Regions from separate parts of the Homo sapiens genome. Here regions 1 and 3 are each linked to region 2. The links come from fine-mapping of genetic effects on gene expression. A gene starts in region 2. Each other region holds a variant in brackets. All regions are shown on one strand. Distances are from middle to middle. Region 1 holds the start of LOC124902924 (a long non-coding RNA gene). Region 2 holds the start of SLC38A4 (solute carrier family 38 member 4). Region 3 overlaps SLC38A4 (solute carrier family 38 member 4).

Region 1 (8,191 bases), 120 kb before region 2:
TGTCCTCCCAAAAATATGTTGAAATCCTAACCTATAATACCTCAGAATGTGACCTTATGTGGGAATAGGGTCCTTGCAGATGTAATAAGTTAAGATGAGGTCATAGTGGAGTGGGGTAGACCCCTAATTCCATATGACTGGTGTTTCTATGAGAAGACAGCCATGTGAAGCCACAGAGATACACAAGCAGAAGGCCACGTGAAGCTGGAGGCAGAGACTGGAGTGATGCATCTACAAGCCAAGGAACACCAAGCATTGCCTATGTTCACCAGAAGCCAGGACACAGACATGAAACAGATTCTCCCCCAGAGCCCCCGAAAGGCACCCGCCCTGCTGACATCTTCCTTTCAGACTTGTAGCCTCCAAAACAGTGAGAATAAATTTCTTTTGCTTTAACTTATCTAGTTAGTGGTTGGTATGGCAGCCTTAGGAAACTAACATAATAATATTTTAAAGAAAACTTAACGTTTCTCCCTTTAGATGACAATTCCAGCCATAATCCAATAACAAAAGTGCTTGCTAGCATTTATTACTTACTGAAGACATGCCAGACACCATCCAGTTTTCCTCAGCAGAACCTACCAGATCACTGCCACAGAAACCAGGCCACCTTGCAACCCTCCTCCAGTATTCAGTGATTCTGCTCTTGCCCATAGATGGTCCACTCAGCAGTCACAGTTTTGAGTCTCTAGAATGCAGTTCTCCAAATTTCCAAAAATTCCCTCTGGGCTACATCCATGTAACTAATACATTGCTCCCTGGAGATAGGCCTAGGAGGAAGTCAAAAAGTCAACTCAACATCATCTGGAAAGCATGAACTCAGAACAAGGTGTGTTACTGGATGAACTAAATATTTTATGGCACCAGATATATCCATTGCAAAAACAAGGATAGTGTTTGGGCTGGTACATTGCTGTCACCTCCTCTGTCACAGAAGCATGAACTGAGCAGGTTCAGCTTTGCTTGGCACCTTTTTTCACAGCTCCCAGAGCCGACCAATCTCTTTCTGAGAGGTTACTGTTTTATTTTACATGTTTTATTTTTAAGCTACATTAGTGTATTAATCAATGATACAATTATAGTTTGGTCTGTGTGTTAGTCCGGGAAGTACATGTCAAGATGGGATTAAACATGCATGGATTTTATTAAAGGAGGGAGCTGAGGAAAGCTGGGATAGTCATTGGTCTATGATGCAAGCCTGACCCTGAAGGAAGGAGAAAGGGGAAGGGCAGGAGGAAGCATCTTAGACATTTACAGTTGGAGGAAGGTTCATCAAGGTATTGGGGGCAGGATGTGGGGCAAGAAGGGTCACTTGTGGCAAAGTGGGCTGTAGAAATGCCCTATCTTGCAGAAATGCATCTGCCTTAGTGTTTCTGTTGCACTCAATCATGGCTGGGAGCAGCCCATGGGAAGCTTGGCCTCAGTACAACATGGCGAATGATTTCAGAGCATGGAAGCTAGAGCCCTTGGTCAGTTATGCATCCTGTCTTTCATGACCCATACACCACAGCCTGGGAGCCATACTTTTTCTTTAAGGGGACTGATTGCCTATCTTAGTAATGTGTTGATTTAAAATTTAACTACCAGAGGCAATTTCACTTCTCATTTATTGGAAGAAATTTCCTGTGGCATGACCTCCAAGTATTTATAATATCTATCTTGTTTTATTCTATTTACTTCTTATACATATGTGTGTGCAAATATATTTATATATACACACAATATTATGCATCTCTTAATAGCAAGAATATGTTCTGGGGAATGCATCACTAGGTGATTTTGTCATTGTGCAAACATCATAGAGTATACTTGCACAAACCTAGATGGTATAGCCTACCTACTATACACCTAAACTATATGGTAAAGTCTACTGCTCCTAGGCTACAAACCTGTACAGCATGCTACTGTACTGAATACTGTAGGCAATTATGACACAATGCTGGGTATTCATGAATCTAAACATATTCATACATAGAAAAGGTACAGCAAAAGTATGGTGTAAAAGATTTAAAGTAATGGTATAAAGATTTAAACGGTATAAATATTTAAAGTACAGTAATGCCCTAGGCCTTCATGTTCACTCACTACTCAATCACTGACTCACCCAGAGCATCTTCCAGTCCTGCAAGCTCCACTGTGAATGAGTGGTGAGTGAACAGGAAGGCCTAGGACATTACTGTACACTACTGCAGACTTTCTAAAGACTGAACACTTAGCCTACACTGAATTCATAAAAAAATTTTTTCTTGCTTCAATAATAAATTAACGTTAGCTTACTGTAACATTTTTACTTTATAAACCTTTGCATTTTTTAACTTTATGAATCTTTTGTAATAACACTTAGCTTAAAGCACAAACACATTGTAGAGCTGACAAAAATATTTTCTTTCTTTATAGCCTTGTTCCATAAGCTTCTTTGTATATATGTGTATGTACATATATATACACACATATGTACATGCACATATATATAAAATATATATATATATATATATATAAATCCCATGTCTAAGGTCAACCAGCTGGCTCTCACCTTCTCATGTCTAAGGTCGACCAGATGTCTCTCGCCTTCCCATGTCCAGTATTTATTTATTATATTGTATTATTTATTTATTTATTTTTGAGACAGAGTTTGTCTCTCTTGCCCAGGCTGGAATGTTGTGGTGTGATCTCAGCTCACTGCAGTCTCGATCACCAGGGCTCAGCAATCCTCCTGCCTCATCCTCCTTAGTAGCTGGGCTACTGATGTGCACCAATTTTTGTATTTTTTGTAGAGATAAGCCTTCACCATATTGCCTGTGCTGGTCTCAAACTCTTGGACTCAAGTGGTCCACCTGCTTTGGCCTCCCAAAGTGCTGGGATTACAGGCATGAGCCACAGCACCCAGCTGCTGCTTTATATTTTTAAAATGTCTTTTTTTTATTCTTCTTAAAATTTTTTTAAACCTTTTTTTTCTTTTTTTTTTGGCTAAGAACTAAGATGCAAACATACACATCAGTCTAGGCATATACAAAGTCAGGATCATCAATATCATTGTCTTCTACCTCCACATCTTGCCTCACTGGAAGGTCTTTGGGGCAATAATACACATGAAGCTATCATCTTCTACAATGCCTTCGGGAACACCTCCTGAAGGACCTGCCTGAGGCTGTTTTACAGTTAACTTTTTTTCATGAGTAGAGGGAGTAAACTCTAAAATAATGTTAAAAAGTATAGTTCAACATATAGCTTAACATGGTTATTGTGAGAACAACTAATCAGATAAATCATTCCAAGCCCCAGAGGTTATTTGAAGGGGTGGGGACTGAAGAGGAGCTGTATAGTAAATACATAAACCACTAGTATAGTTGTGTTGTTTATCATCATTATTGAGTATCATATACTGTACATAATTGTATGTGCTATACTTTTATACGACTGGAAGCGCAGTAGGTTTGTTTACACCAGCATGACCACAAATAAGTGAGTAATGCATCATGCTACATTACGATGGCTACGATGTCACTAGACAACAGGCATTTTTCAGCTCCATTAAAATGGAACGAATGTCACACATGTGGTTTGTTGTTGACTGAAATGTTATACAGCACATTACTCTGTGTGTGTGTATCTATATTTAAATGTTATGTGCTGCATAACATTTCAGTATACATATAGTGTGTATATATATTTACTGTATATATACACACATACATGCATACATATACATATATGTTTTAAAGATATATTACTGCACTTAAAAAAGAGAGGAAAAGCTATTGGAAGCTAAATACTTCCTGAGATATATAACTTTCCCCAAACCCATAGTGAAATGGTTCTTAAATAGAAAAGCCCTGTGTTAGTGCACCATATGATATCAGTTAGACATCACACAAATGCACATTCCTAATAGCATCTCAAGGTGAATAAATGATATACTTTATACATTGCTGCATATATCACATTTAATGAAACACCTACCTGAGTCTTAAAGACACTTTATCTTTAATTAGAACACATGCTGTACTCAGAAATAGTAATTTTGACAACTCTCAGTACTGAGAATGGGTGAAACAAACAACAGTGAACATCATTTTCACACCACTGTTCAGACAGCAATTTGAAGAAAATGCTGAGCACAGCTCCCCCTGCCTTGTCAGTGAATGTTGCCTGGAGATTTGTGAGAACACGTGCACACGTTGACTCAGCAAGACCAAACTGACTGTACATCCATGATCCTCTGGGAGTGAATTGTTCTTAAAATAATGTGAAATATGAAGCATCCAAGAGGTGAAGGAAGCAGTGAAAAATACCATCTGCAAAATAAGAATCTTGGATTGTTGTCTTGTTTATACTTGAGCCTTCAATAAATTACTTAATTAGCTTCTTCTTGACCCATTTCTCTTTTATTTAGGCTGCTTAAAAAAAAAGTCCCTGGTAGTTTACATAGCACAGTTTAATACACATAAAAACACTTTAGCCTAATGGTTCCTTTAATGAAATTTATGTGAAAATGTCACTTCAATCATGAGACTTTTATATTTGTCCAGTTTTATTAATCTTTATAACTTGTGGGATATTTTTCAAAGATCTGAACTAAAAAAAAAAATTTGACTGGAAAAATGAGGAAAAACATTTTGAGTCTTTCTTTATCAAAGAATCATTTATTTTTTGTACTCCAGGAAACACTTATGCATCAAATTTACTAAAGGTTCATTAACAGTGCAGTAAGTCTAGAATAATCATAATCTAAAAAATAACAATCTTCAAGTGATCAGATTTTTGTCTTTCATAGTCAATAGTCTAATGTTATGGAAAAAATTACAAGTGAAAAATCATAACAACTTATAAGGTGCGTTTAATGTCAACATCCTTTGATATCTTTAGTTCTTTACAGTGTGCATCATGTTAATCAGTCACAACATCCTATGTTATTGTCAAAATGCTCTATTTGCTAAGACAAAAAATGAAATGAATTATTTTATAATTTTAATGACAGGAGACACAAAAAGGATTTTGGAATTTAGAAAGTTAACCCTTAGCAAGCCAGAAAGTAGGGTAACCAAATTCTCTCATTTAATTCTCTTAGACTTTGCTATACTTCTCAACACA[T/C]ATGGAAAATATACAGCTCCCTAAGGACGGTTGCAGCCTAACATCCCAAACCAAAGAGCATTGATTGTGTCAGTTGCTAGGAGGCCACAGTAGCATCAGTAACCTGCTTTCCTCTTATGCCCACACGGTTATCCTGAGAACAGTTAATCAGATAAATTATTCCAAGCTCCAGAGGTTATTTGAAGGCATGGGGACTGAAGAAGAGCTAAAAAGGGAAAAGGAGATGACTGCAACACTTCCCCAGCTCCTGAAGCAAAGAGACCTGGAAAGAAGGGAAAGCTAAATTTTTCTGGCACCTCTCACTCCATTACAAACACACACACACACACACACACACACACACACACACACACACACTCTCACACGATGCTGCACCTTTCTCGCTTCTTTTCTCACTGTTCCCCTTGACTTTCATTTAAACTTGACTTTGCACATGTAGAGTGCTTATGAGCTACAGAGGAAGGACACAGGCAGACCAAATAGCCTTGAGTCACACATTCCTCCAGGAAATTATCTTTGGGCCCTATGATTTACTGAGCAGGTGCTCAGTAACTGTATGTCAAATAATTGAAGGCATGCATGCCACCTACTGACATTAGGCTTAATTCTTACCATTCATTGGATGACTTATCCTCTTTCAGTTCTGAATCATTTCCTTCTGCATATTTGAGAGCTCCTATGCTGCTAGGAATTGCGGCTTTGGGAATTAAACATGATCATCCTGAACCCTAAAAATTCTGGAAAATATCTATAGAAGCTTGGGTTTTTCCATCCTGTCTTGGGCTCGTTCTAATTTTGTAAATGACTTTCACGTATTCTCTTGATAGTTCACCTGCAGCTTAAATTTTATGGGCACCTTCAAATGAAATTTTTATATAAATGATGCAATATGTGCATCAAAATCCATCAGAAATTGAAATTCCATGGTGAGAAAATAAATCACTAGAGAGTTTGTTTGTTTATATATAAAGAATGTGCCTATTTAATTTAATGCTCTATATGTAAACGATCAGCTTTAAAATGTAATAATCTATAAAGGATTCCAGATTTTTACATGTTTACATATTTAACATTCAAGAAGCTTGACTTGAATCCAGATCTTCAAGGTTCTGTTCCCACATGCCAGGAATGAAGCAGGTTAGGACACACTTGTTAATGTCTGCAGTTGAAGGCCATAATGACCCTTCTCCATTCTGCTGGATGCATACTTCCATCATGACCTAGGGTTTGCCTGCTAATTTCTACACAGGCTCAGAGCCTATGACAGAACCTCCTTAACCACCATGCTCTGTGGAGGTACCTATACAAAAATCCTGGGTCATCTTCCTTGGGAATGACATTATTGCAGGTTCAAGTCTTGTTATGGGTTGAAGTACTGTGTAGCATAATGTTATAGTGCTTAATACAAATTATACAAAGCAATTAAACATTGGCGAGTAAAGCTGTGTCAACAGGGAAATATTTAGTAAAAGATGAATCCACCTAGATAGATTTGTTTCATAAGCGTAAACCTGTTTGTGGCAAGGTTATGCTGGTGCCTTATAAACTCCAGCCCTTTGAATAACCTTAATGTGCACTTTTTCGTAGCCCACAGAGTTTCTATGACCATAACTTGCATACTTCTCAGAGCAGAAGGACTGAAACAATATCTATCAGTGGTTCTCACAAGAGCAGCAATAATTTTTTTCCAAAAGGTCTTCCAAAAGTCTTTAAAGATTTGTAATTACTGTTCATTTATTGTAAAATAAACATAAATTAAAAATTACAAGAAAATTAAAACTCAATTTCACCACCCAATAATTAACCACAGTTGACATTTGTCTAATAGGTTTCTGGATGTTTTTCTAGGCATATATGTATATACTTTCCAAAGACGGGAGCATATTGTACATACTCCATACGGGTGTTTTTTTTTTTTTTTTTAAATTGTTTTGTGATTTGGGGTTTTTTTTTTTTTTAATTTTTTTTTATTATACTTTAAGTTTTAGGGTACATGTGCACATTGTGCAGGTTAGTTACATATGTATACATGTGTCATGCTGGTGCGCTGCTCCCACTAACTCGTCATCTAGCATTAGGTATATCTCCCAATGCTATCCCTCCCCCCTCCCCCCACCCCACCACAGTCCCCAGAGTGTGATATTCCCCTTCCTGTGTCCATGTGATCTCATTGTTCAATTCCCACCTATGAGTGAGAATATGCGGTGTTTGGTTTTTTGTTCTTGCGATAGTTTACTGAGAATGATGGTTTCCAGTTTCATCCATGTCCCTACAAAGGACATGAACTCATCATTTTTTATGGCTGCATAGTATTCCATGGTGTATATGTGCCACATTTTCTTAATCCAGTCTATCATTGTTGGACATTTGGGTTGGTTCCAAGTCTTTGCTATTGTGAATAATGCCACAATAAACATACGTATGCATGTGTCTTTATAGCAGCATGATTTATAGTCATTTGGGTATATACTCAGTAATGGGATGGCTGGGTCAAATGGTATTTCTAGTTCTAGATCCCTGAGGAATCGCCACACTGACTTCCACAATGGTTGAACTAGTTTACAGTCCCACCAACAGTGTAAAAGTGTTCCTATTTCTCCACATCCTCTCCAGCACCTGTTGTTTCCTGACTTTTTAATGATTGCCATTCTAACTGGTGTGAGATGATATCTCATAGTGGTTTTGATTTGCATTTCTCTGATGGCCAGTGATGATGAGCATTTTTTCATGTGTTTTTTGGCTGCATAAATGTCTTCTTTTGAGAAGTGTCTGTTCATGTCCTTCGCCCACTTTTTGATGGGATTGTTTGTTTTTTTCTTGTAAATTTGTTTGAGTTCATTGTAGATTCTGGATATTAGCCCTTTGTCAGATGAGTAGGTTGCAAAAATTTTCTCCCATGTTGTAGGTTGCCTGTTTACTCTGATGGCAGTTTCTTTTGCTGTGCAGAAGCTCTTTAGTTGAATTAGATCCCATTTGTCAATTTTGGCTTTTGTTGCCATTGCTTTTGGTGTTTTGGACATGAAGTCCTTGCCCATGCCTGTTTGCAGACGACATGATTGTTTATCTAGAAAACCCCATCGTCTCAGCCCAAAATCTCCTT
Region 2 (8,191 bases):
GCAAGCCACTACTGCCCTGATGATGTTCTGCAGGAAGGATAAGAGGTAGAAGTAGGGGAGGGACAAGTGAAAGGAAAGGTGCTTTAAGAGCCAGTCTTTATACTAAGCCCTTTAATGTGAATCTCATTTAATCTTCACATGATACTCTATTCTATAGGTATTTGTTATCTCTGTTTTACAGACAGGAAATTGAAGAGGTTAAGGAAAGAGCCAAGAGTCACAAAGCTAGTAAGTAACAATGCTGATATTAGAATAAAATTCATCCTATGCAAAAGCTCCTGCTTGTTGCAATAAAGACAGCAGTAAAATAAAGACAACCAGAGGGAGGAGAACAAAAACTTAAGGAAACAAGGGTGTTAGAAATGTGTTACATAACACAGTATGGTGTGAGAGATAGGAGAAATGGAAAAACAGAATCACTTTCATGTCTCTTAGTTCTTTCTTCCACTGTGTATATAATGACCTAATTTCACTCATTCATTCCATAAATAATTATCAAGTGTTACTATCTTCAAAGAACTATATTAGGGAGTTTCTTTTATTCCTATCTTCCTAGCACCTAGCACAGTGCTGGGCAAATACCAGGTGCTCAAGAAATATTTGTGGAACAATGAATGAGTCTACTGGAGGAAAGAATAGATAAGGAAACATTTGCAATACAGCATGATTAAAAACCAGGGAAAAGGCTGGGCACCGTGGCTCATGCCTGTAATCCCAGCTCTTTGGGAGGCTGAGGAGAGTGGATCACCTGAGGTCAGGAGTTCCAGACCAGCCTGACCAATATGGTGAAACACCATCTCTACTAAAAATTACAAAAATTAGCTGGATGTGGTGACGTGCGCCTGTAGTCCCAGATACTCGAGAGGCTAAGGCAGGAGAATTGCTTGAACCCAGGAGGCAGAGGTTGCAGTGAGCCAAGATCATGCCACTGCACTCCAGCCTGGGCGACGGAGCGAGACTCCATCTCAAACAAACAACCAACCAACAAAACAAACAAAAATAAAAATAAAAAAAAGGAAAAATCAGATTTGAATACTCTACCAGAGAACCTGGCTTAGGAAAGGGGTCAGAGAACATTTCAAGACCAGGTGGTACCTGAGCAAGGTTTTGAAGTAGAAATAAAAGTTAGCCAGGCAAAGAATTGGAGGATGTGAGGAAAGGACTCTCAGTGGAGAGACCAGACTGAGAAAGGATAAGGAGGGAGTCAGTTCAGGAATTTAAGAGTTCAGTACTCTTAGTCAGTAGAGAATGCTTGGGAGGAGGCTGGGGAGGGAGGTGTGGTCAGGGAGATCCTTGCACATTCTCTCTGCAAGTGTCCCTTAGCTCTGCCCCTCCCCTGAATTTTGAAAGTTACCTGTGCTAACAGAACAAAGTAACTGAACATAGGAATTAGCAATACATTTTATTATTTTATTATGGCCCCATAATAGAAAGCATACAGCTTTTTTGATTGCTTTTAATGTTAGGATTTAAAACCAGTGCTCAAATGGAAAGATAAGACAACAAAGTCTTATCTTTCCATTTGAGGGAAAACCAAATTATTTTTCTGGTTCTCAAGGGCATATTCTATTTTAGCATAGATAAAATTTACACAAACATACAACAAAATCCAAACAAATGTTCTTCTATGCTTTTATGAGGGGAGAGGTGGAGGGGATTTCTCTTCTGATTTTAGTTTTTAATGGCTATATTTTTCATTTTAGTATATTATAGCAGAGTCAGGAAGTACAAATGTATTTTTAAAAGGTGATGTAGGGAATTGAATGACAGTAACAAATGCTATCCTTTTATCTTTTTAGTAGATGTTTATGCCAGTCAAGATCCTGGGTTTTCATAACAGACTTTGACAACTTTTGTTTTGTAAGGATCTATTATTCCAGGTTTTTATTCCAAGCTCAGAGGTCTGCATACCTCTTTACCATATCCATGCTTGTAAAATACTCTTGGTCATAATGTTATTAGGAAGGGAATTCAATTACTTCTACCACCCAAAGCATTATTTGAAATGTTAGCAAATGTCCATACGAAATGTTTTTCGATAGCGTGATTTCCTCTATCATAACTAAAACAAAGGAAAAAGGAGAGGAGATGGAAAAAAGAACTAAATAATACTCATGCCAGACAGTCCAGCCCAGAGAATGTCATTCCCTGTATATGATTATTTCTTGTTGGCTATTTCTGCCTATTGTTCCCAATAAATCTAATGTGTATTCATGATTAAAATGACTATTATCTCAGTTCCCTTGTTTCCCCTCAATTTTGTCTCTTTTGTTCACTACTGTCACCCTGATGCCTAACACAGTGCCTGGTATAAACAGACACTGGTACATGTTTGTTGAATGAATGAAGGAAGAAAGAAAACATGTTTCTTTCTGTTTTTTGACAGAAAATATTCTTCAAATAAACATTTTTTTCATGGACCTACTAAAGGCCTTTGCAAAATGATTTTGTGCATTGTTTATAGTCAATACAAATACTTTTAAATTGTTTACTTAATTTGCATGATTGCACATGATTAAGAGTATAAGCTTGGTAGGCAAGGTAATGTGGATATGAATCCTAATGCCATCATAAAGTTGGGCTTCCTGGGCTCAGATCTTGACTCTACCATCCAACTTCCTGGGTTCCAATTTTGGCTCTCCCACTTTTTGCCTGAGTTACCTTGAGCAAGTCAGTCCACTTTATTGCTTCACTCATCTCTGAAATGGGGAAAATAATAGTTCCAACCTCACAGGGATTTTAGGAGGATCAAATTAGTGAATATTTGTAAAACATTTAGAATCATATCTGGCACTTTTTAAAACAACAGCTATGGTATAGAATTATTGTGATGATGATACTGCATGGCACGTAAACACTCAATAAAATAGGATTGCTACTATAGATATTATCGCAATTCTTCATTTCTATAATCTGCTATGAAGATTTGGGGCCCTAACAGCCTTTCCATGTTTTGGTCCAGTGAAAGTCTTATTGTTTCTACCTTCCCTTTCACTCGTAACTCTTTCTACCCACCCTGTGTTTGTCCTGTCATTTTGCCTTGCGTCATTTATTCATTTTACACTGCATACTCCTAAGGGCAGGGACTTTGCTCTTTGTTTTGGCATAATTTAATAACACTGGGTACACTCGCGGTACTATAAAGATGTTGAAGAAAAAGAAAAAAGACGCAATTTACCAACAGGCAACTTTGGCTTACGGCGGGATAGGTCGCTGTTCTGTCTGCAATGTTGGTACTCCTGCAGGCCGCCCAGCAGCATCTAGGGGCGTGGCTGGGGGCTCTCCAGTGACCGCACGTCCTGGGCGGCCACTGGGGTGTGCGCAGCGCCTGGAGCATGAGCCGGGTGGTGGCGTGCACGGAGGATCGCGGGAGGCTGCCGCCTCGGGACACCCCACTCACACAGGTTTGCTTGCTGCTTTTGCGTGGCAACTTGGTTAGAGGGTCCAGGAGAGTGGGTGAGACGAACGTGGAAGGGGAAAGAGAAAAAGACATACTGCAAAGCACTGAAAAACGAGGTGGGTGGGAGGGATTCATTAAGAAGAGAGGCTGTGGCAGTCCTTGCTTTTAAGAAGCGTTTCGTGCATGCTAGATAGTGCTATTCAGGCTATAGTCTTGTTTCTGGAATTTTTCCAAATGGGAGGAATGTGTTTCAAGGATGCAGAGTATTCTTTAAAACCGTATGACCAAACTGACCTCTATTGTTAAAGGGATCTAACTAAAAGGGTTCGTGTTTCCCACTTTGCTTTGTGAATGCCTGAAAAGCAATCCAAAGGTTGAGAACACTGGAAAACAGAGCTATTTTATTGCAGTCCTGAGAATGCAGTCATTACTGTTTTATTCCTTCTTATCTTTTGAAGCAATACTTTAGTAATTCTTTAGTAACAGTATGCTTTAAAGAAGGTATCTGACACATTTTTGGCATGTGCCACTATGCTATATTTCATTATTCTTTCTGTACAGAGGCATCTGTAAGGAATATATATATATATATAAACTTTGTATATTAAAGTAATTATAAATTTGCATCCAGTTGCACAGAGAGGCCACCTAAACCTTTCACCTGGTTTCCTCCAGGGGTTACATCTGACACACTTTAGTACAATATTAAACCCAGGAAGCTGACATTTAAACTTCGTATATTAAAGTAATTATAGGTTCGCATCCAGTTGCACAGAGAGGCCACCTAAACCTTTCACCTGGTTTCCTCCAGTGGTTACACCTGACACACTTTAGTACAATATTAAACCCAGGAAGCTGACATTTAAACTTTGTATATTAAAGTAATTATATATTTGCATCCAGTTGCACAGAGAGGCCACCTAAACCTTTCACCTGGTTTCCTCCAGTGGTTACATCTGACACACTTTAGTATAATATTAAACCCAGGAAGCTGACATTGGAATAATGTGTGTATAGTTTCTATGCCATTTTGCCACATGTGTAGATTTGTGCAATCTGACCCACTATAGGCCTGTCAAGATGCAGAACTTCCACCTGTATCTTGCATAAGATCTCCCTTGTTCCACCTCTTTATCATTATCTCCACCTGCTCCTCGCTACCCCGGCAACCACTTGTTTTCCATCTCTATATTTTCATCGTTCTGAAACTATTATATAAATGGAATCATACTGCATGTGATCTTTTTGAGACTGAGTTTTTTTCTTTTTACACTCAACTTGATGCTCTTGAGATCCATGCAAGTTATTGAGTAGATGGATAGTTTGGTCGTTTTTCATGCTAAGTAGCATTCCAGTTGTTTGACTCTATCTAGTGCTGCACATTTTCCTTTGCTTTTTAAATCAGTGAAACTTGGAACTTCAGTGGGATTAAGGAGGTACTTGAGGGCACTTGAAGAGGTGAAAAGTGTGAGGACGAAATGTGAATATTTTTATTTTCAAAATGACATTTGTTTGTGTTAGGGCAAAAGGATGTATACACTCCATCTTCATTTAAAACACTGGAGGATTGGAAAGGAGAAAAGGAACAGGACAGAAAAAAAGTATGTACTTAGACAATAAGGTATAAAATCTAGTACCTTTTAAAATTTTTACATTGGTACAGTAATCTGTTACTTTACCTTAGTTAAGACATTTCAGAGTTCTTGAAATGAATCAAAACAATGCCTCTGCAATCGGAAGTTCCCTGCCTATCTATGCTCAGACACATACTGCCAACTGAGGGACAGTGGCATGGCTGGAAATGACAGTGAGTAGCTATTGGGTTTGACAGGGGTCACCCAGAGCCCAAAACAGCATCTTTAGCCCAAGGGCAACTATCAAGGGCAGATGTTCAGGTTCAGAGACTGTCAGTGTTACACTACTTTCACCTCCACCTCATCTGCTGCTGGGAGGAGGTCTCCCAGAGGTCCCTTCAAATCAGGTTTTAAAATGAAATGTTATTCTTTATCTGCATGCTCACAAGCATGAGAAACCTTGAAACTGGAGGCTGTAACTAGCCAAGGGAAATGCATCACTTCTGAATAGTACCTGGAAGGCTTAGGCTAAATCCCTCCCTTCAGCCCGTACCCATTGAAGAATTCCTCCCACCTCCAAAGAGAGAAGAGAACAAAATATCCACTACTATCTGAAAGCATTTGTAAATATCCCGTTGAGGTTTCGGAATTTCACATTCTGGAATTTCAGAGACATATTGTCAATTCACAGAACGAAACAGTCAGTCTGGAGCCCTGACTAGACTTGAGTTTAACTGAATGCATTGCCCTGAGTCTCTGTTTTAATGATTTCTGTTACCAGAAAAATATTCCTTGTCCTAAATCTTGGGAAAGGATGGAGTGTAGCTGGCAATGGTGGTTCCAAAGTCTCAACATGAAGAAACATCACAGCTAAAATAATTTATAACTCTTTTTATAGGTAGATCTGCTTTTCTGAGTCTTTTGAAATGGAATAGAATCATTTGTGCTGTCTTTATAATGTATTTTATTTTAAGTAAACATTAGATATCTCACATTGCTTTGCAGGCTGTTCTTCTGGGTCATATCTCCTGTGTGTGTGGGCAGGGCAGATAATTTAATCCTATAAACTTGAGGGAATGAACACTTCTCTGTAAGTCACGAGACCAAACAAAAGACCCACTGAATTTTGCATACCGCTCTTATACTGTTTACTTATTTGACTAATGATGACAGTCATTAGGAAGGTGTGATAAGAAATGTAAATATATTGACTATGATGCTCAACATTGCAGGCATTGTTTTTTACAGGGTGATGGGAGGGTTGTTTTCTGATTTTTTAAAGCTTTTTCTTTGAAGGGAAGTAATGCAGTTTTTGAAAGAAAAGTAAAATAGAAATGCCTTATGTGCATTGTATAATTACTTTTAAACTATATGTTAAACTGTGTATGTTGCATAATTACTTTAAAACTATTTCATAATATTATCATGGTACCCACATTGAAGAATTAAACCAAATATAATGCTTTCCATTATTCTTTATACCAAAATTCCTTAAAGTTTAAACTTCTTAATCTGGTAGTCAAGATCAACCTCAGCCAAACTCTATACAAACATTCTATTTTAGCTGAAGTAGACTCTTGTTTGTTGTTTCCAAGGTCAAACTTCTGATCCCATGTCCCCTGCCTGGAATCCACTCTTCTGTCTCTGAAGTCACACCATTCTTCCTATACAAAACCTACTCTATTTGCCTCAGCTCTCCAGTTCATTTCCACGTGTCTTGGAGACAGGGATCCTATCTTTTGAATCATGTTCAACATAAAGTAGGTGCCCAGTGGTGATGGACTGTCTTAGGAGCTGGGCTCAGAAGTTAGACAGTGGGTTGTGAGTTTTGGCTCAGCTATCATGCCAGGACCTTATTAGCTTTGGTCTTTGAGTAAGTTGTCTCTCAACCCTAATTGCTGTCATAAGAAGGGGTAGGGTCCCTTTATGCCTATCAACTAGGAAGACAGAATCTCCAGTTACCCACCCACTGAGACAGAAACAAATAGAAGGAGTCTTCCCATCTTAGGTCTCATAAAAATATGTATGTTTGGCACAGATTTTATTTTTGGTAAGAGATTCTAGCTTTATTCTATTCCTGTGACTGTATCTTAAATAATTACCCTTTGTTAAGTGATTGGAACCCTATGTGTACGTGTGTGTCAAAATAACACCCTCCCAAAGATGTCAAAAAAGCGAATTAAGGGGTGTGGTGCATACATGCACATTTCATATGCATACATTTCATGATCTTACATGTAGAAGAATCCTAAAGACCCCACAATAAACTCTTGAATCTAGTAAGCAAATTCAGTAAAGTTGCAGGATACAAAATCAACATACAAAATCAGTTAGATTTCTATATGTTGACAATGAACTATTCTGTCAGGAAATTAACAAAACAATCACGTTTATAGTAACATTCCTAAGGAATGAACGTAATTAAAGAGGTAAAAGTCCTATGTACTGAAAACTATAAAAGGTAAATGAAAGAAATTAAAGCAGAAAATAAATGGGAACACATCTTGGGTTAATGGAATGGAAGACTTAACATCGTTAAAATGCCCATACTATCCACAGTGAGCTACAAATTCGATGCTGTCCTCATCAAAATCCCAATGGCATTTTTTACAGAAATAGGAAAAATAATCATAAAATTTATATGGAACCATGAAAGACTCAAAATAGCCAAAGTGATTTTATTAAAGAACAAAGCTGGAGCCATCATACTTCCTGATTTCAAAATATATTACAAAGCTATAGTAACTGAAAAAATATGGTACCAAAAAACAAACAAGACAACAAAAGCTGTATGGTATTGGCATAAAGAGAGTGATAGATCAATAGAATGGCATAGAGAGCCCAGAAGTAAGCCCACACATATATGGCCAACTGATCTTCAACAAGGGTCCCAAGAACACACAATAGGGAAAACATAGCCTCTTCAACAAATGGTGTTGGGAAAACTGTATATCCACATGCAAAAGAATGAAATTGGACCTTTATCTTACATCATAAACAACAAAAAACTAAAAATGGATTAAAAACTTGAATGTAAGACTTGAAACTGTAAAACTCCTAGGATAAAACATAGGGAAAAACTTTTTAACATTGGTCTTAGCAGTGATTTATTGGATATGACACCAAAAGCACAGGCAAAAAAGCAAAAATAGACACGCAGTACTACATCAAACTAAAAGGCTTCTGCACAGCGAAGGAAATAATCAATAGAATGAAA
Region 3 (8,191 bases), 31 kb after region 2:
AGGATGGAGTGGAGGAGGGAGGGGAGCATGCCAGTCACTGTGACCCACATGTGCAAATGACCTGAGATGTAGAGAACACGGTGGATTTCTGGAATGGAAAGACTAGTGTAGCTAGAACACTAAGGTGAGGAGAGTGTGGACGGAGATGAGACCAGAGAGGTGGGTGGACCAGGCAGAATCTTACCAGGCATGTTGAGAATTTTGGACTTTATCCTCAGAGTAAAGGGAAGACATTAAAGGGTTTTAAGCAAATAAATGATATGATCTGTGTTGTTGCTGTTATGTTTCAAAGATCACTCTGGGTATTGGGTAAAGAATGAATGGTGGGGGTGGTTAGGGGAGGCAAAAGAGAATTGAAGATCAATTAGGAGATTTTTACAGTAGACATGATGGTAGCTTGGACAAGAGTGAAGGTGAAAGAAATGAAGAGAAAAAGACTAACTTGAGAAATACTTCAGTTTATTGTAAAAGTCAACCAGACTTTGTAAAGAACTGGATGTGGAGGGTAAGAAAGAAAAATTTATAATAGAAGGCTCTTATGCTTTTGACTTGAATAATTGGATAAATGGTGACAACATTCTTTGGAATGGAAACATTGGAAGAAGAGGGCCTATCACAAGTTAGACTTTGAACACATTGAATTTAAACTGCCTTTGAGATATATAGATGACATTTAGGCCCCTGGACACATGGAACTTGAGTTCCCAGGAGAAGCCTAGGCTGATGTAACTTGAGGAGTCTTTGGTATATGTATTCATCAGAGTTCTCCAGAGAAACAGAACCAACTGGAGATAAATAGACAGACAGGTATAGATGTATATAGATATAAGATGACATTTATAATGGGAATTGGCTTTCATGATTATGGAGCCAAGAGATCTCAAAGTACAGCATCTGCAAGCTGGAGAACCAGGAAAGCTGGTGGTATAATTTAATCTGAGGCCAAAGGCTGAGAAACAGGATGTTGCTGGTATAAGTATCAGAATTACGAGGTCTGGGAAGCAGGAGCTCCAATGTTCAAGGGCAGGAGAAGGCAGCAGAAGATGGATGTCCTAGCTCAAGCAGAGACAGTAAATTTGCCCTTCCTCTGCCTTTTTGTTCTATGTGGAACCTGGAGTGTTTGGAGGATGCTCACCTTCAGTGGTGAGAGTGGACCTTTTTTACTCAGTCTATTGATTCAAATGGTAATCTTTTCCAGAAACACCCTCACAGACACACCCCAAAATAAAGTTTTACTTGCTATCTTCCCATCCTTTAATGCAGCCACAATGACATATAAAATTAACCATCACGTTATATGAAGTCTTGGGAGTGGACTGGAAGAATGGGGCTTAGGATCTAGCTTTAAGGAAGTCAAGCAATGAAATGTCACATATTTTTAAAAGGACAAACCACAAAAACTGTGAAAAGCAATAGTGGTGTCATCAGCAAATAGAAATTTTTGAGAATTCCTAGAAGGCAGAAAGAAGATAGGGTTGGAAAATCTAAGAGAAAAGGAACCAAGATAAGTGTGCTTTTCCCATAGGGAGCCCTGCAGTAGCTTCAAGTTAAGTCGATAAAGACAAAGAGGAGGCATAGATCATGGGCAACCAGTGATCAGGTATCCACCAAGGAACCTCAGTTTAGACATCATGGTCTGTTTGGGATACCATTTTTGACTATAAGATAAAGCTGTGATCCAATCTGTAAAGAAACCTCAAGGGAGGATGCTAGGATAAGCATTAGGGCCTCTACTGCAGACAAAGAGGTATAACAAACAGGAATGGAAGCTCTACCAAAAAGAAGATACATTAAAATGCTTCACCCCCGGAGTAACTGCTCCTAGAGTGGCAGCTGTGTCTGGGAGTGGGATGCTCCTCCCACAGACAAGCAGCAGAAGAGCCACTTACACAGAACCTACAAGGGAGCAGCCCATCAGTGAAATGGGCCCACACAATTTCAGAGAAGCTCTGAGTACCAGCTGTCCAAGCTAATCGATGCGCTCTGTCATTCACAAATATGAACAGATAACCTAGGAACACTTGAAACTAAGGAAAATGAGCAGCATGGAAGAGAAGGACCAAAGGGAACAAACAGAATAACTAACTTCAGAAGAAACGTATAATTTAGGGAACAAAAGGAACTTCTGAAAACCTCACATCAATATCCTTAGAAAAATCTGAGAAAATATAGTATCCATAAAACAAAAAAAGTGATATGAAAAAAGAGAAAGAGGATAAGAGCAAATTATTAGAAATTAAGAGCATGATTGAGAAAAATAGCTGACAAGTTGAAAAATGAAACGGATATAGCTGAAGGTGAAATTTGTTATTTTGGATGTGACATTGAGGAAATATTCCTGAACATCGAGCAGTAAGATGAACAGATCGAACATAAACAGAAAAGCTTAGCAATATGGATCAAGAGGTCCAATACCTGATTAATAAAAGTTTCAGGAGTAAACAAAGGGGAAGAAATAGTTTTTTTAAATAGTAGAACTTTTTTTATTTTTAGAAAATGTGTCTTCTATAGAAGAAAGACAAGCCTTTTGATTGGGCCGTCTGCATGCTGAGTATGATGAATTTTAAAAGCGACTCACATCTAGTCACGTCGTGATGAAAGGATAAGGATAAAAATTCTGAAATCCTCAGAAAACCATCGATAAATTATCTATAAAGAAATAAGAGCCAGACTCATCAATAGAAGCTAGAAGAGAGAAGTTTCTTCAATATTCTGAAGGAAAATGCTTCTGAATCTAGAATTCAAACAATTAACAAAGTTTGAAGGCAAAATAAAGAATTTTCCAACATGAAGCAACTCAGAAATTCTATTTACAGACATAGGCTCATTGTGTGAAAAAAGTTATTCAAGGCATTATTTTAGCATAATGCAAAATAAACTGAAGAAAGAAGATAGAATGCCGTTCAAGAAACTAGCAGCTGAGCAAGACTCAGAGGTTGGAGGAGGAAGCCATTCAGAATGAGAAAGAGCATAGAAAATTTGCTTTCAAAGTTTTGGTAATATAGAATTATATTTCACTTATTATGTAGTCAAATACACCACTTTGTCTTTAGGGCATACTATTTATACAGTGATAATACTGTAATTGCTGCTTATTGGTTTTCCATGTTTAGAAACAACCTACAGGCAAGTTATGACACTTGTTTCACAGAACAAGATGAAAATATTATGATTCTCAAATTGTAAAAGTATTTTATTAACTAAAATAATTAGGAGTGTAGGAGAAGGAAGGAAAGAAAGAAAAAGTATGCTAATGTCCTTATTTTTTATGGGTAACCAGTCTAAAATCAGTAAACCAAGTCAAAAAAGCTTTAGTGAATTATTCAGATCTAGAATGGCTAACTTTAAGTAACAAGCTAAAAACAGAAACCGTCAATAGTGGTTGCTGCTGGGAAGTGAGACTGGTACTGTGTGAAGAATGAGGAAAACCTTTGTACTCATTTAGTGAGTTTCTTTTTTTTTTCTTTTACCCATATGCATGTCTTACTTCTATTCTCTCTTAGCTTTTAACCTGCTTCTTTTCATCTTTTATGTATATACATTTAGGCTGCCTTATATTAATAATAGTTTCATTTTTGTTCCTCCTGCTTAAAACACTGTGTGCTATTTTTTTAAATTCTGAGAACTGCTTTCTTTATTTCTAGACAATTCTCTGCCATTATCTCTTTCTGTTTTGTCTCACCCTAGTCTCACAATTCTCTATATTGGAATGACTATCAGTGTATATTTGAACTTGTAATTCTTATTTTTTCCCCATTCCTCTTAACTTCTTATTTGTATTTTTCTTTTTTTAATCTCTTCATGCTATAATTTGAGTGATTTCCACAGATCTGTCTTTCAATTTTATAAGTCTTCCTTCAGCTGAGTTTTTTTAAATTTCAATGATTCTATTTTTTTCTTTTTTTTAAGAATTCCTTTTTTTGACTCTTTTTGCAACAGCCTGTTCTCCTTTTATATTCCTTTATAATGTTTTTATTCTGTGAAAGTTATTCTCTTATTTTGAATGTTTTCTTTCAAAATGTCTTTCTTTTTATTAATTTAATGTAAAAGTCCCTTTTAAATTGCTTTGTTATTTGTAGTTCCTTAGATGTGAATTTTATCATTTCTTGTGCCTACTGGCACTCTTGCTAGTGAGTTTCCATGTGTGTTCTATA[T/C]GTTTTGTAATTTGAGGATGTGAACTTTTCTCAAGTGTGAGTTGCCTTTCAAAAAAGTACTGCCATGGCACTGGGTTGTGGAGGTATTCCCATGTGGTAGTTTCTGTTTGTCAGAGGAATAGCACATTTTGTGACTTCTGGAGCAATTTTTATGTTAGTTTCTCTGCTCAAGATTTCCTTATCAAATGGGTATTGCACATGTCATGACCACACTTTTCAAGAATGATAGTGTTTCTCCTAATACGATGGTTCAACAATAATTGAATGAATCTAATGGTAAGAATTTCAGAAGAAATTATATCAACTACATATAGTAGATTCAAGGCATTTTTCAAAAACACAATGCCAGTCCACCCCTTTTCACTATACAATTGAGGAAAATGAGGTCCCCAAATGTTAAATGACTTCTGCTGAGATCCAATGAATTAAAGGCAGAGCAGAGGCTAAAATCTAGATCTCTTTGTTGTTAAAATACATTTTAATTTGACACAGATGATGAGTAATGCTGACCCAGAGGTAAATCTGAACTTTCTTTTGTTACTATTCTTAACTTTGGCTTCAGGATCCAAGTGCCTAGAAAGTTACTTCCTAAACTTGATCCTCACCTATGTTGCATATTATCAAGCATTTGGTGGTGTTAATTCTTTCATGTCCAATTAAATTAAAGCAGTAATTTTCTTTCTAGTTATTGCTAGTAGAGACACTGGTAGATTCTGCCTTGGTAGACCTTCCTCTGTCAACAATTTACTTTTGTCTTCCTTTCTTTTAAAACATGTATCCCACTCACAAATACCTAAATTTCCTTGAAGACTGCTGCCATGTCTTAAGATTTCTTTTTTTTTCCATAGTGACTAGTAAAACCTGCCATTTTCATTATACATAGGCACTCTATAAATATCTGCTAATTTAGCAATTATTAGTAATTTCCTTTCTTCTCTTCCATTTCTTCCTTTCTTGTATTGGGTAAAGGAACATTTCAGGATTTTCTTATGTAAAGTTTTCAGGAGTTTCTTTCCTTCCTCCCTTTTACAGAGAGCATACAAAATGTAGATGATTCATATTCACTTATTTCATTTAAATAAAATTATAATGATGTATGTTGTGTTCTGTTTGCAGAACAGAGTGTTCTGAACATCAACACAAAGTGGAAGAACCTTAAGCTGAAGGTACAGTATATTATTTACACTGAAGGGGCTTGTGTGTGGACAAGAAAGCGCTGACAGCTCAAATGGATCCCATGGAACTGAGAAATGTCAACATCGAACCAGATGATGAGAGCAGCAGTGGAGAAAGTGCTCCAGATAGCTACATCGGGATAGGAAATTCAGAAAAGGCAGCAATGAGCAGGTATGGGGTTAAAAATTACTATGTTCCATGGAAAAATAAGACAGGATGTGGACATGGAAAACAGGGTCTTGATGGGAAGAACTGGATTTATTACAGGTAAATTTGTGATAACAATGATATTGATGCTAGCACATCAATTCCCTGGTCCTGAAATACAGTGATAATGTCAATCTCTTTTGTGACTGATTTAGAATTGAGGTTACAATGTCTTTGTCTCCATTAATAATGTGTAATAATTTTAATTATTTTAGCCTATTGCTCCTCTTATCTTTCTCAGATTCCTCTTTGAATGTTGCTACACCTCCTGGTTTCTGTAGGGATTCTTTTCTCTCTAAAAGTATCCTCTGGGCAAGCTCACTCACAACTACTATGGCCTCACCCTCCAAATATATGCCATATACCCAGCCTGTTAAGTTTCTCTACTGAATTTCAGATAATTATATCTGAATGTCTACTGCACGTCTCTACTGGACCATTACTGTGTCTAAATTGCCTCATTTATAAAGTTAAACCTGTAATGTCTAATACTGAACTCCTATCTTTCCCTCCAAAACCTGCTCCTCCTCTAGTAATCCCCATCCTAGTGAAAATCACTGCTATCATGTAGCAACTCACTCAAAAGCCCCTAGGTGTAAACTTTGACCCACATAGCCAACGGTCAGTCATATCCAGTTGGTTTGACCTTATTAATGCTTCAAATACACCTACTTTTCTGTACCCATTCTACTGTGGTCTTACGTTAGGCCTACATTAAATGTGAGACAGGGAGAGAGCCCTGATTTCTCTCCCTGTCTTACATTTTGCTCTCCTCTGTCTAGCCCTCTACACTCCTGCAAGAGCAATCTCTTACAATTGCAAATTGAATCAATTTCCATCCTTAGATAAAGCCCTTCTGCACCTCTCCAATAGCCATAAGAGAAAGTAGATTACACACACTGCTGGGCACGTAAGGTCCTTTGTGATCTGTTCTTGACCTGCCCCTCCTGTCCTGTTTTTTGCCCTCTCCCTATTTGTTACTTGTTGCCTTCACTCATTCTGCTCCAACTGCCTGGAATCAGTCACCTGCTCCCCCTTTCTCCGTGTTGACACCTCTCATCCTTCAAGAATCAGCTCAACATCAGGTCTCCTATGCAGCCTTTTCCAAATTACTCTACTCCCCCATGTAGAAGTGACTGCCCCTCCTTCATGTACCCTCTCCCTGTGCAGATGTTAATTACGCCACTACTACAGGTTAATGGCCTCTGTGGTCCCACCACCTGCCACATTGTCTGGTGCATAGTGAGTGCACAATAGTTATTTGATAAGTCAATTGATTTCCCACAAAATGTTATATCAAATTGTACATGATTTAAGATGCTCAGAAGGGAATTTTTGACCAAATCTAGGCGTGAAATAGAGAATATTGTGCTCAAACAAAGACTTCTCATTTTATTTACAACACCCAGGAAAATCCATCAGGAGAAACTACCGTTCTTCCTTCAAGTAGCTCAGTGCAATGAACTTTAGGGATGTCGGACTAGAGAGGCCACTGAGATGTAAATTATAGCATTTTCTAAATTAGGTGACCCTTGAAGAAACACTAGGGTGCTAGAAGACAGGGCTTTGGAGTCTGCAGAGTAGTTGCCTGACTTTAGAGAAGCTGTTTGTCCTCTTTGAGCTTCAATGGAAAATGTAAAATGGCAAACCAACAGCTGCTTTTCAAGGATGAGATGGGTGACCAGAATATAGATGACATTCAATACTTTTTTATTACTTCTCCTTCACTGCATTACCCTCAGTAAATTGATTCAAACCTGAGGATGTTTCTGAAAGGCATGCACACAAATATGAGCTCTGCCGAGGTTGACAGAGTTAAAGGGGACACCCTCCTAAGAACTGTCATAGTGTCATTCCACTTGATCCTCAAAAGCCAGAGTAGAAAGAGCATGAATGCTTTTCTTAAGCTTCATGCAATGTGTTCCGAACCACTCACAGTGACTTACCTTTTATCTCCTGGCTTAAACATAGGACATCATTTTGCAGTTTTTAAAATCAGTTTAAAGAGATGGGTTTTATCTATGTGTGGTTTGGATTGAACCCTTAAATGTAAATTTTTGAGAAATTCAACATAATGTATTTATTTGTGATCATTATACTTGTGTTTTCAATACATGCTGGGTTTGGTATCAAAACATTTAACATACTGGGGACATTTCTCATCTATTTTATACAATCTTGGCATGTTAAATGACTACAACTCATCTCATGCCAAAATAAGAACATGCAAATGCCTCAAAGAAAGAAAATCTGTTTACTTTCAAATTCTCAATTTTAAAAACTACTATGGAATACAGATTTTAGTTTATTGATTAAAATAAAGATTCCAGAGTTTAAATTCTAGGTGGCACTTTTGTTTTTATAGTCCTCAGGCCCATTTTAGGCTTCATTTTATCCTGTCATCTCAGTCTCCAACTGTGAACATTATGTACCAGTCTTCACATAGCAGGTACATTAATTACAGACCATTAATGTAAACCACAAAAGAGTGGTGGGCAGTGGGTGGGGGGTGAATGGAAATGGAAAGAGGCAACAACTGAGGGCATTGTGCTTTCTGTGAGAAATATGGGGAGAAGGCTAGGAAATGTTCTTAACTTGTGTACTCAGAGCTATTTATGCCTTGAGTTCTAGAAAAGCACATACAACTTTGTGGT

What was found. PIP is the estimated chance that this variant, and not a neighbour inherited with it, causes the effect. A credible set is the group of variants that fine-mapping cannot tell apart.
Region 1: its variant is the best candidate, but not a certain one, in a credible set for the expression of SLC38A4 in skeletal muscle (GTEx, PIP 0.50).
Region 3: its variant is the best candidate, but not a certain one, in a credible set for the expression of SLC38A4 in nasal epithelium (TOPMed, PIP 0.50).

The regions. Positions count from the first base shown.
Region 1 is chr12:46,940,257-46,948,447 of GRCh38, reverse strand. It overlaps LOC124902924 (a long non-coding RNA gene), which reads right to left and starts at 6,958. Exons shown (of 2, transcript XR_007063285.1): 1 at 3,961-6,958; 2 at 1-770. The variant T/C (reference allele first, on the strand shown) is at 5,092.
Region 2 is chr12:46,821,116-46,829,306 of GRCh38, reverse strand. SLC38A4 (solute carrier family 38 member 4) reads left to right here and starts at 3,310. Exons shown (of 17, transcript NM_018018.5): 1 at 3,310-3,404. RefSeq lists enhancers at 2,734-3,291, 3,292-3,850.
Region 3 is chr12:46,790,263-46,798,453 of GRCh38, reverse strand. SLC38A4 (solute carrier family 38 member 4) reads left to right here. Exons shown (of 17, transcript NM_018018.5): 3 at 5,271-5,501. The coding sequence starts at 5,383. Among named protein-coding and RNA genes, the nearest start is that of SLC38A4, 32 kb to the left of the region's middle. The variant T/C (reference allele first, on the strand shown) is at 4,155.